Regions from separate parts of the Homo sapiens genome. Here region 1 is linked to region 2. The links come from fine-mapping of genetic effects on gene expression. A gene starts in region 2. The other region holds a variant in brackets. All regions are shown on one strand. Distances are between the middles of the regions.

Region 1 (5,361 bases), 24 kb before region 2:
CCAAATGCAATAACCAGCTGTTCCATGTGCTCCATGGGTACTACGTGGGCCTAACAAGGCTAAGCACTCTGTGGCCTCTAAAAATGTCCCAAGTGACACCAAGACACCCACATGGACTCGTGCAGCCGAGCCCCTCCCTCCACCCGCCACCCTCCTCCCGGTCTCACCTGTGGTGAAGGGCAGGGTCCTGGCAGGGGTCTCTGAGCTGGAGAGGACTCGGGCCTGGCTGGCAGGCTCTGGGGCTGACAGTGAGGCAGGTGCGGCTGGGGAAGACTGAGCCCGGGACAGAGGCCGGTGCCCACCCTGGGCCAGAGGAAGCAGCACAGTGTCCCCGGTGCTGCCCCGGGGGAGCCGCCCAGCCAGTCGCTGCTGTTCCCAGAGCAACACCTAGGGGAAAGATGGGGCCTTGGTCTCCAGTGTTTCAGGGTCCTGCTCCCTCTACTTCTGCCTGAGGTCTTGGGAACTGCCAAGCAGGCCCCTTTCCTAGAGAGATTCCAGGATAAACCTAGACCTGCTGTCCAGTGGGGCTCTGGCCTTTGACTCTCTAAGCCCCCTGTCCCCTGCAGCCCCCTGACAGGTTTGCACCCCAGACTGACCACCCATTCCACCAGCTCCCCGGGCCCTTGGGGCTCCAAAGCCAGGAACCAGGGGAGGGGCGCTGGATCTTGTGCTGACCAGGATGTCCTCCTGTCCTGGACTATGTAACTGTTCAAGAACATGTGTGTGGCCTGTCATCATGTGTTATGGAGTAAATTATGTTCCCCACCCTCAAATTTATATGTTGAAGTCCCAACCCCCAGTACCTCTAAACATGACCTTATTCAGAGATAGGGTCTTTACAAACAGAAGTAATCAAATTAAAATGAGGTCGTTAGGGTGGGCCTTAACCCAGTATGACTATTGTCCTTATAGGAAGAGGAAATCTGAACAGGCATTCACAGAGGGAAACCACATGAAGCCACAGGAAGAAGATGACCATCCACAAGCCAAGGAGAGAGACCGGGAACAGCCCCTGCCCTCACACTCACAGCCCCCAGAAGGAACCAACTCCACCAACACCTCGATTTTGACTTCCAGCCTCCAGAACTGTGAGATGGTAAATGCCTGCTGTTTAAGGCGCCCAGCCTGTATCCCAACAGCTCCGGCAAGCTAATGCACTGGGTCTTGATTCCCACAGTGAGAGCATTCTGCTGGACACGCTGGAGCCTGGCTCCATCCCACCTCTGGCCCTAGCCACCTTTCTGGATAGAGGGGAGACATACCAGGGCAGGACTATGTGTGGCTCCAGGAAAGGACAGACTCCTTCCTGGAAAAGGGACATGCTTCACCTGAGACTGGCAAGCTGTTGTGTGTATGTGTGTGTATGGGTGTGTGAGTGTGCATGTGTGTGTGTGCCTACACCTTAGTGTGGATCCAGCACCCAGGATCTTATAGGGCAACCATGGGTCCTAGAGCTGCCTGTTGCACTGATGTCGTATCTCCCTCCCTTCCCCATCTTATGCCAGGCCCCAGAGTCTTCTGAGGACACTTTCTGAGGGGCAGGTGGGGACTGCCATACCTGAGGGTGCTGCTGGAGAGGAGCGGGGCCTCTGGCCTCAGGCTGCCCATGGCCCAGCTCCCTGTGCTCCAGGCCATCGTCCACCACCTGGCCCGGTCCCCCGCCATCTGTCTCCAGGTCTTCAGCCGAGGGTATCTGCCGCAGCCGGGGCTTCTCACTCGGCTTGGCTGACCTCTGGGGAGGGGAGAACCTGGCTGAGAAGCCATGGTGGAGCGAGGGGCATGGGGTGGGAGGTGGTGGGCTGGGCCAGGCAGCCAGTCATCTTGCTAGGACTCCAGCTGCCATGCAGCTCTGGGCCCCAAGAAGCCACATCCCCCTCTTTTGCCCTCCAGTTCCCTGCCCTTTCTAAGTACCCCTCTTCTTTTGGCCCCTAAGTCCCCAGTTAAACACTCCCTCAATACCTCCACTGCCCAATTCCTCTCACCTTGATCACCTGGACGTGAGTTTTGAGCTGCTCCAGGCGGGGCTGCATGGGGCCCGGCGGTGGGGGAGCGGTGGCACTGGGGGGCAGGGGCTCTGAGCGAGTCCGGCTCAGTGGCCAGTGGAGGCCTGACCCAGAGAGCCGCTCGGTGGTCATTAAGGACTGGGCAAAGTGGAAGGGCAAGGGCCCAAGCCCGGGCACTGGAAAGAATCGGGGGGTGGAATAAGGAGGGAACCACAGGGAGCAATGGAAGGAAGCGAGGGTATAGGGTGGGGGGCCAGGGTGCAGCAGGGCAATGCGCAGGACAGGGGGACAGAGATGGGGAGGAAGGATGGGTCCATCCCAAGCTTGGCTCTTAGCAGGGTGCAGGGACCCAGCCCCTTCCCTGAAGAAGCAGCAGACTCACCAGTCAGCAGCGGGGCATGAGAGCCTGAGGGGTCCAGGAGGAGAATGGGCTGCAGGCGAGAGGGCAAGGTGCCCCCAGCCTCGGGCTCCAAGCCATGGGGCAGGAAGAGGGGAGTGTGGGGGCTCCCCAGGATTGGCCCCCGAGGGCCCAGAGTCGGATGGGTCCTGCGGTCACTGTCAGCCTGGGGGAGAGGCGGGAGAAGTCACGGGGAAGAAGATTCCAGCAGAGAACAATGAAGATGATGGGGTGAGGCAGCAAGAAAAGGGAGTGAAAGAAGCTGGGGGGGCTTGGAGTGGGGGTGGGCACCCCAGCCACTCACCCTGGCAGGGGCGGGCAGCCCCAGAGTGATTGCGGGCAGCAAGGACACTGTCGGCAAGGCGAACGGGGCCACAGAAGTCTCCTGCAGCCGCAGCCGCTGGCCCAAGAGCGCCTGCCATAGGGAGCAGGGCGAGGGTCACCGGTCCCAGACCTCTACCCCGGCGCACCTTCCCCAGAACACCCAGGAGGCTCTGGCAGGGGCTGCCCAGACCCTGCAGCCCCAGCCCAGGTAGGGCCGCCTGCTGGAAGAAGGCTGAGCCTCAGAACTGCCCCAGGAGAGCCCAGTCTCGGCAAGGCCTTACCTCCGAGCCCAGGATGGGATTGGGGCCGTGCTCGCTGTCATTGGGGGAGCTGCA[C/T]CCTGATGCGGGCGTGCTGCTACTACTTGGGGAGGAGTCTGAGGGTTGGGGAGAGAGGGAAGTGCAGTCAGAGGCCAGGGTGGGCAGGAGGGTACAGCCAGGCCGCCTGGTGCAGGAGACCCGGGAGCACCCCCTTCCTTAACGAGCACCTTTGCTTCCTGCTTTCTTTTTTTTTTTTTTTGAGACAGAGTCTTGCTCTGTTGCCCAGGCTGGAGTGCAATGGCACGATCCCGGCTCACTGCAACCTCCACCTCCTGGGTTCAAGCGATTCTCCTGGCTCAGCCTCCCAAGTAGCTGGGACTACAGGCATGCACCACCGTGCCTGGCTAATTTTTGTATTTTTAGTAGAGACAGGGTTTCACCATATTGTCCAGGCTGGTCTCAAACTCCTAACCTCAGGTGATTGACCTGCCTCAGCCTCCCAAAGTGCTGAGATTATAGGCGTGAACCACCGCGCCCGGCCTCCTGCTTTCTTCCCATCAGAGCAGGAAGAAGACAGGCCACCTTTGGCCTACAGCACCTTTGCATAATTTTTTGAAGGGTGCCCCCTTTTCTGGGAGATGTCACCTTAGCTAACAGAGCAGGGACTGGGTTTCAGCCCCAACTCCCCCGCTTCGGCAAGTGTGTGGGACACCCCCATGCAACCACGCATGGCAGTCCTAAGGAGGGGACCCCTGTCTAGGTGGGGCCTGACCCAAAGGGACAAGACCAGCCAGGTTTGAGGATGGCAACCGCACTGGCTCAGCCGGCCCTCACCTCCGAGGGTCTCTGCGGGCCGCCGCCGGAGGCTGGGGGGCGCACTCTCCTTTCGGAGCAGTGGATTCTTCCTCCGCTCCAGGGACTTCTTGGGCTTATAGCGCAGCTTCAGGTTGGGCTCAGAGACTGCAGGGAGCACCAGCGTCACTCAGGCCCCCACCACCCTTCTTTTTTCCACCCTTTAACCCCTCAGTCCCAGTCATCTCTATCGGTCAAGGAAAGAGAAGGCAGAACTAGAAAGAAGATCCTAGCCTACCGATGATCTCCTGGCCCAGCCCAGCCCGCCCACCCCTGCACACTCCTCCCCCATGTCCGAGGCCCTTCCCCCTTCCTTTGCCTGAAAGGTCCGCCTGTTTGTTCAGCTCACCTGTCTTGCGCAGAGGGAAGTGCTCTGGGGGGTCACTGGGCAGGCTGGGAACAGGAGGCAAAAAGCTGCTGAGCATGGAGCGGGTGGCTCCTTCCGTCTCCAGGGGCTCCAGGGTTCTACAGAACGAGTGCCAAGGCTGCTTCAGAGGTGTGGGGACACTGCACGGGCACTGCCCTGAGCACGGGCCCTGGGACCTGAGGGGGAGGCTGCAGCGGGCAGGGCTGGGCAATGTGGGGCTGGTAGGAATGGGGACCATCTCCAGGTGGCAGCAGTGGGCCGCCTGTCCGCTCCAGCAGCTATAGTGCAGAGCTCTGACCTAGGCATAGAAGCCAGGTGCTTGGTGCGTGGGTGAAGAGCCCACTGGGGGCTCTGTCACCTGCACTAGGAACCTGCTCTGGGAACCAGGACATTTTTGCGCTCAGGGAAAATATAAAGAGAGAAGGGGCTCATGTGCAAGAAAAAAGCCAGTAGGGTGTGTGTGTGTGTGTGTGTGTGTGTGTGTGTGTGTGTGTGAGAAGGGCTCAGGTGGGGTGGGGAGAATTTAAAGAGAGGAGGGCAGGTATCAGTTGAGAGAGGGGCTCGGGGGCATTATGTTTAGAGGAAGGGTAAGGACTGGTTGTGGCAACTGGGGAGGAAGGAGGCAAGTGTGTGTGCTCATGGCTAACACGGGGGCGGGGGTGGAGGGTGCATGTGGGGACAGGAGGGCAGGTGAGGAGGGTGTTACCTGTAGGGAATGCCGGGGCTGTTGGGATGGACTGTTCTTTCTAGGGCCGCCTGCTGTTTTTTCAGAATCACCTCCGCTAGCTTCTGCTTGACCACGCTGCTGGCTACAGCACCTGTAGGGGCAGAGTCAGGAGGGGGCTGGAGGTGGGTGGACAGGCGGCCTCGTGGCACTACCTGGCCACTGCCCTGTCCCCATCCTCAGTAGGAGGCGTCCCAGGGACTCCCTAGGCAAGAGCCAAGCCCGAGGCCCTACCCCTCCCTAGAGCCTCCAGACACCACCCCCCACCCCCACATCCCCCACACATTCACAGGCAGAGCCCAGGCAAGCAGAGGGAAAGCCTCGGCTCAGGCCCAGCTGGCTGCGGCCCTCCCACCTCACCCCTCACAAGCCACACAGGCAGCCGCAGGCACCTGGCTGGTGGGGCTGGGCTGGGCTGGGGTGGCCACCTCCTTACT
Region 2 (5,361 bases):
GCCTCAGTCCGAAGTCTAACTGAGGGCAGGCCAGGGAGAGCCAAGCTGTGGAGGGTGGGCCAGCAGAATGGGCACTGGCAGAGTGAGAAGGCCTGGTTCTGGCCCCCTCCGCCTGCCATTCCCTGGCTGTGTGACCCTGGGCCTTGCATTAGCTCACCTTCTCTCAGGCCCCTGCCGACTTCAAAATTACCAGCCCTTAATGAAAGGCCAGGAGAAAGAAGGCAAAGAGGAGATGGGGTTCCACAGGCTTCTGTCTTCCAAGTCCTTGGGCATGCTTGCCCACAGCTACCAGAGGGTCCCCACTCCCTACCCCATCACACATGAGTTTCTCTCTTGCTCAAGGGTTTTATATCAGAATTGAGAAAGTTCCAGCTTCCATGCCAAGAGGCCACCAAGGACTAAAGCTGAGGTCCATTATCCCTAAGCAAACTGGAGGGGGTGGATAATAGCACAGTACCTTCATTCTCCTCTCCATAGTCAACCTCTTCTGCTCTGCTCTGAGAAGTGTGCTTGGAATTTTCTCCCCATTTTACTGATGGGGAAACTGAACTTCAGTGTCAAAGTGGAGTGAACAGCTTAGACATGCAAACTTCCCTGCCCCAAAACCCACTGTAAGACCCGGTGGCCACAGAGACACCCGCCGAATAAGGGACACAGAGGCCTCTGGAGAACACTGCACCAGGACCATTCCAGGTGCAACATCAGGAGGCAGCTCTGAGCTTGCCTCTGAGCCTGGCCCTGCTGGGCAAGGAGGGACATCAGGGGACTAAAGGCAGAGGACCAGTCCCAATAGGTCCAAGACCTGGTTCCAGTCTAGGTTCACTGGGCTGGGTACCACTCACTGGGACTACTCTGTGCCTTAGTTTCCCTCAGAAATGACTGCAGAGAAGAAGAAAATGACTTAATAACCCATGGGTAGCGGCAGCCTAGCAGCCTATGGAGTCCTGGGAGGGGGAAAGGGCCGCCAAAGCGTCTCATTGGAGGGCAGGGACCTGAGTCACAGTCTCCTGCCAGCCCTATAGCTGAATAGGGGTCCTGAGGAAGGTCCCACAGGTCCAGATGCAAGTCCAGGGAACAGGCTGAGAAGTTGATCTTGAGCTCCCAGCAGGGCCGCTGAGGGCCGATGCCCCATTCTCACCCTAGAAAGCGGCAGGCAGAGCTGGGCCTCAGGCAGATGTTGCCTAGGGGAGTGGGCAGGGAGCGTTGGCAGCGAGACAGCCAGTGTCCAGATGCAGGGGGAGGCCTTTGGGTGCGCAAGACAGCCAGCGGGGAGAAGGAGTGAGGAGCAGCCGTGGCTGGGGAGGTCAGACCCAAACGGGCAGCCACAGCGGGAAGCAATGGGGGTGGGGCACTGGGTGGCCTGCGGGCCCCAGAGGGCTCTCTCCTGGCCCACAGGCCTAGAAACTCTGGTCGTGGGAACCCAGCCCATCCGCCAAATTTGCCGCCTGCTCTCACACTCCCCAACACCAACAGACCCCAGGCCTGGGGGGTGCACATCCTGTCCCCCACCCCTCACACAGCCTGCGGCGCCCCGCTTCCCGCGCCGCTGCCGGCATTGACCTCCACAGCTCACCAGGGCACAGGTGTCTCTTCACCCTGATGGGTGAGCAAGGATGGGGGGCAATGCTCAGAGAAACCTCCCAGCCAGAGACCCCTCCAAGGGACCTCTTTCCCCGCCGAAGGATCTGAGTAGGGCCCTGCCCGGCTCCACGGGATGGGGGCGCTGATGTCCAGCCCCACAAAGCCCAGCCCCAACTCAGTGGGTCCTGCCCTTTGCCCTCGCGCTTCCAAACCTTCCGCCCCGGAGCACCGCCCCCTCGCCGGGCCACCGCGGCCGTCCCTCCCTCCCCGGTCCCTCGGCTCGTCCTCCCCGGGAACAGGGGTGATGGGACGTGGGGCCCGCACACCGGCGGCCGGGGCCTCCAACTCCCTCCCTTGGGCCTGTAGCTGCCCCGGGGCGGGCGGATGTGGGCGCCCCGCGGGAGGCCCGAGCCCTCCGGCCCCCGGAACCAGCTCCGACCCGGAGCCTGCCAGAGCCCCGCGGAGCCGGGCGGGACAGGCGCGGTCGGGGGGCGCAAGCCGGGCTGGGCCCGCGGGGCTGGCGGGAGCCCGAGCCGGAGCCGGAGCCGGAGCCGGGGCCAGGGCCGGAGGCCGAGCCTGGGCGGGCGACGCTGGGTGCCGCGCGCAGGGCGGGGCGGGGGGCGGCCGCCCAGTACTCACCAGCGCCGGGGCTGTGCATCCAGGGGCCGGGGCCCTCAGAGCGGGGGGCTCATGGCGGGGCGGGGGGCTGGGGCGCCGGCCTCACATCCCCCCAGTCGCCGGAGGCTGCAGAGCGACTGTGAGACGGCGAGAGGAAGGGAGGGGGCCGGGAGGGGGAGGGCCCTGGCAGCCCGGCCGGCCGGGTAGGATGACAATGGAAGGAAATGCTTTATCTGAGTCTGAGAGCGGGCCAAGGGGGAGGGGAGGGAGGGGGCAGGCGCTCGCGGCCCTGGGACACACCACCCCGGCAGACACTGCACCGCGCGGCGCACAGGCGGGCCGCAGACACCGCGCGCGGCCAGATCGCGGCGGGGCGCGGCGCACTGCCGGGGAGGCAGCGCCGAACCCGGAACGCCGGCCGCGGCTCCGAGCCCCAGCCGCCGCGAGGCGCTCCGAGCCGTGCACAATTCCCGGAAACCCAGCTACCTGGGCGCACGCACCCTCGCATACACAACGTACACGAGCACGCATCCATGTTTACAAGGGGCAGAATCATTTACACAGCACACACTGGGGCTTCGGGGTGGACCCCCGTGCACACACTACATACCCGTACAGCCCACAAGCACGCAGCCACACGCGGGCACAGTGGGACACGCGTGGTGTCCCATGTCCCATACAAGGAATCCCAGACGGACACCCCCCACCACACACACACACACATAAGCACGACTTGCCTCAGGAAAGTTCCAGGATCTGATTTGAATCACTGCCCAGCCCTCCCCCACTGGCACCCCCACACACACACCATGCCTGCTGAGGGGAACGGAAGGGTCCAGCCTGTTCCTATTAAAAGAAAAAGGGTGTGGGGGTGGTGCAGATTTTGAAAGTTTTCTTTTTTTAAAGAAATTTCTCAAGGGACTTCCTTCCCTCCTCTCCTCTTCCTCTCTTCCTCCCATTCCTCTCCCTCCACAACCCCCCTCTTTCCCCCTCCCGGTCCCTATGAGTCAAACTTCAGCAATGTGCCCAGTGTCCCCCAGTGCATTACAGCGGATCACAGAAATGTTCCAGTCTGTGAGTCGGAATGCAGCCGCCTCCAGCCCTCCCTCAGCTAATAAACTCAGCTCAGGGCCGGCTTTAGGCAGTGGCCCTCCCTGCCTCTCCCTCCGCTTTTAGCTGGAGAGAAGGTCAGATTCAGGGGTCAGGGGCTAAGGACCTCGCCATTGTGCTTCCTGGGCTAGCCGGTCAGCCGTGTCTGCCTCCAGCAATCTGGAGCTGCTCCTAGGAAGGGGAGAGGTCCACCACGCAGGAACACTGGGCTCTCTGCAGCGTGAGGCGCCACCATTGTAAACCAAGGAGCAGCTTCCCCTGACCCCATTCTATCTCCCGCAATCCTAAGAAACCCCAAGAATCCAGAGAAGGAAAAATTGAGGCAGCCCCAGAGGTGGAGTCATGTCTGATTGGAAGCAAGAGCCCACAGTGGCCTAGGAGGGCTTGGCCATGCTGGCGGTGAACTTCAAACCATAGATTCTATTCCCTTCCCTCAGGCACAGCTCGGGACTCACTATCTGTTGCTACCGGCATATTCAGCGTGGGACTTCTTACTTCAGCCCCTTTCCTTGTCCCAGTTCTCCTTCGGCAGGCAGATCCAACCCCTCTGCGCTTGTTAACTTACCCTCCCAAAAGCCTTTCCTGGCATTCAAGTCCTCCTACAACCTGGCACCACACTCCATACACATCCCTGCCCAGTGCCTCCTGGTACTTAGGGCTCAGTAGTGTTAGTCACTATTATTACTATCATTATTTCTGCCAGACTGGGCTGCTAGCTGCTTCCCATCCTGTCCTCACGCTTCCACACTCCCTTGCCTTCGCTCATCATGCTGCCTCCAAAAGAAATGTCCTCCCAGCCCCTTTCTCCTTCTGTTGAAATCTTTCCAATCCTCAAGACCCACTCCCTATCTAGTGGGAGGGAGGGAGGGAGGGAAGGAAGGAAGGAAGGAAGGAAGGACTGGAAGAAAAAGAAAGTGGCATACCACTTTCTCCGGGAGGCTTTCCCGGATTCCCATAGCCAAGAGGAATTCTTCCCTGAACTGTGTGGTCTTTATACATTGACCTTCGCCCACCTAGTCTACTTGTCTCAACTCTCTTCCTTCCAAGAGCATTCAAGAGTGGATATCCCTGAGTCCAGCTACTGCCTTGGTCATGGGTGCATTTCTTGTAGTGTCTTGCACAGAATTCAAACTTGATGTGAGTTATTTGTTGAATTGGGACAGATGTTCATGACTTTCAAGAACCCTTCTCCAGCTGGACACCTACAGTACATTCTTTCACCCCATAACTACCCATGCTGACTCTCCAAGACACATGCTGTTCCACCTTAGGTATGTCATCCCCAGCCCTCAATTCCAAGCCAGATCATCCTCCTTCCAAATGCCTCTTTGGTGTCCACAGACTCCAGAAAAACTGCTTGGTTACTGCAGACCCCCAGCGACATGCCTGCTATCTCCCTTGTCTAGCTCCACAATTGATCCCAACCCCCAACACACACATATCCGTAGCTTTTCTGTAGCTATTTCTGTAGTAAAGCCAGGCCCTTTTATGCTCATTTCTACCATGTGCATTGTGCATACATTTATTTGTGAGTCTTCTTTCTCTTTTTAAACTCATCACTGAGTTTTGAGTGATCTGAATTAAGAGGCTATCTCCCTGCCTGTCTGTCCACACAGTGCCCAACATGTGGCTTTCTACACACCAGGACTCACTGCCTCCAACATATAGTCAGAGAAAAAGACAGCATGTGCAACCTGCATCTGGGAAAGCTGGACTGTGTCTCTCCTTCCCCTGCCAGATTTACTTACCAGACCCCGCCTCATGGCAGAGTCCTAAGCCAGTTTCTAAGTCACATGTCCCCTACCAGGATAAATTAGAAAGCCTCCAAGAACCTTAGAGACATGAGACAGAGAAATGCAAGCTACCTCTCTCTCTTCTAGCCTGGTTACCGTGGGGAGCCTTTTTTTAAAAAGCTCTTGAGTCCAGGCCTCTCATAGCTTTCTCAGCTGAACACCTAGCAGAAGAGACTGGCCCCAAAAGACGTGCCTTGGCTTCCTGAGCCTTCCCTAGAGTCTCCGGCCAGCACAAAGCCTGAGGGCACCCCAATCTGCT

What was found. PIP is the estimated chance that this variant, and not a neighbour inherited with it, causes the effect. A credible set is the group of variants that fine-mapping cannot tell apart.
Region 1: its variant is the best candidate, but not a certain one, in a credible set for the expression of HDAC7 in monocytes after Pam3CSK4 (Quach 2016, PIP 0.60).

The regions. Positions count from the first base shown.
Region 1 is chr12:47,793,202-47,798,562 of GRCh38, forward strand. HDAC7 (histone deacetylase 7) reads right to left here. Exons shown (of 26, transcript NM_015401.5): 4 at 5,361; 5 at 4,907-5,018; 6 at 4,183-4,298; 7 at 3,816-3,941; 8 at 3,006-3,097; 9 at 2,705-2,815; 10 at 2,386-2,566; 11 at 1,983-2,179; 12 at 1,559-1,732; 13 at 168-387. Among named protein-coding and RNA genes, the nearest start is that of SLC48A1, 23 kb to the left of the region's middle. RefSeq lists a silencer at 4,325-4,524. The variant C/T (reference allele first, on the strand shown) is at 3,060.
Region 2 is chr12:47,817,547-47,822,907 of GRCh38, forward strand. HDAC7 (histone deacetylase 7) reads right to left here and starts at 2,357. Exons shown (of 26, transcript NM_015401.5): 1 at 2,221-2,357. The coding sequence starts at 2,239. RefSeq lists enhancers at 1-568, 1,286-1,859, 3,198-4,119 and silencers at 1,768-2,077, 2,088-2,167, 2,308-2,647.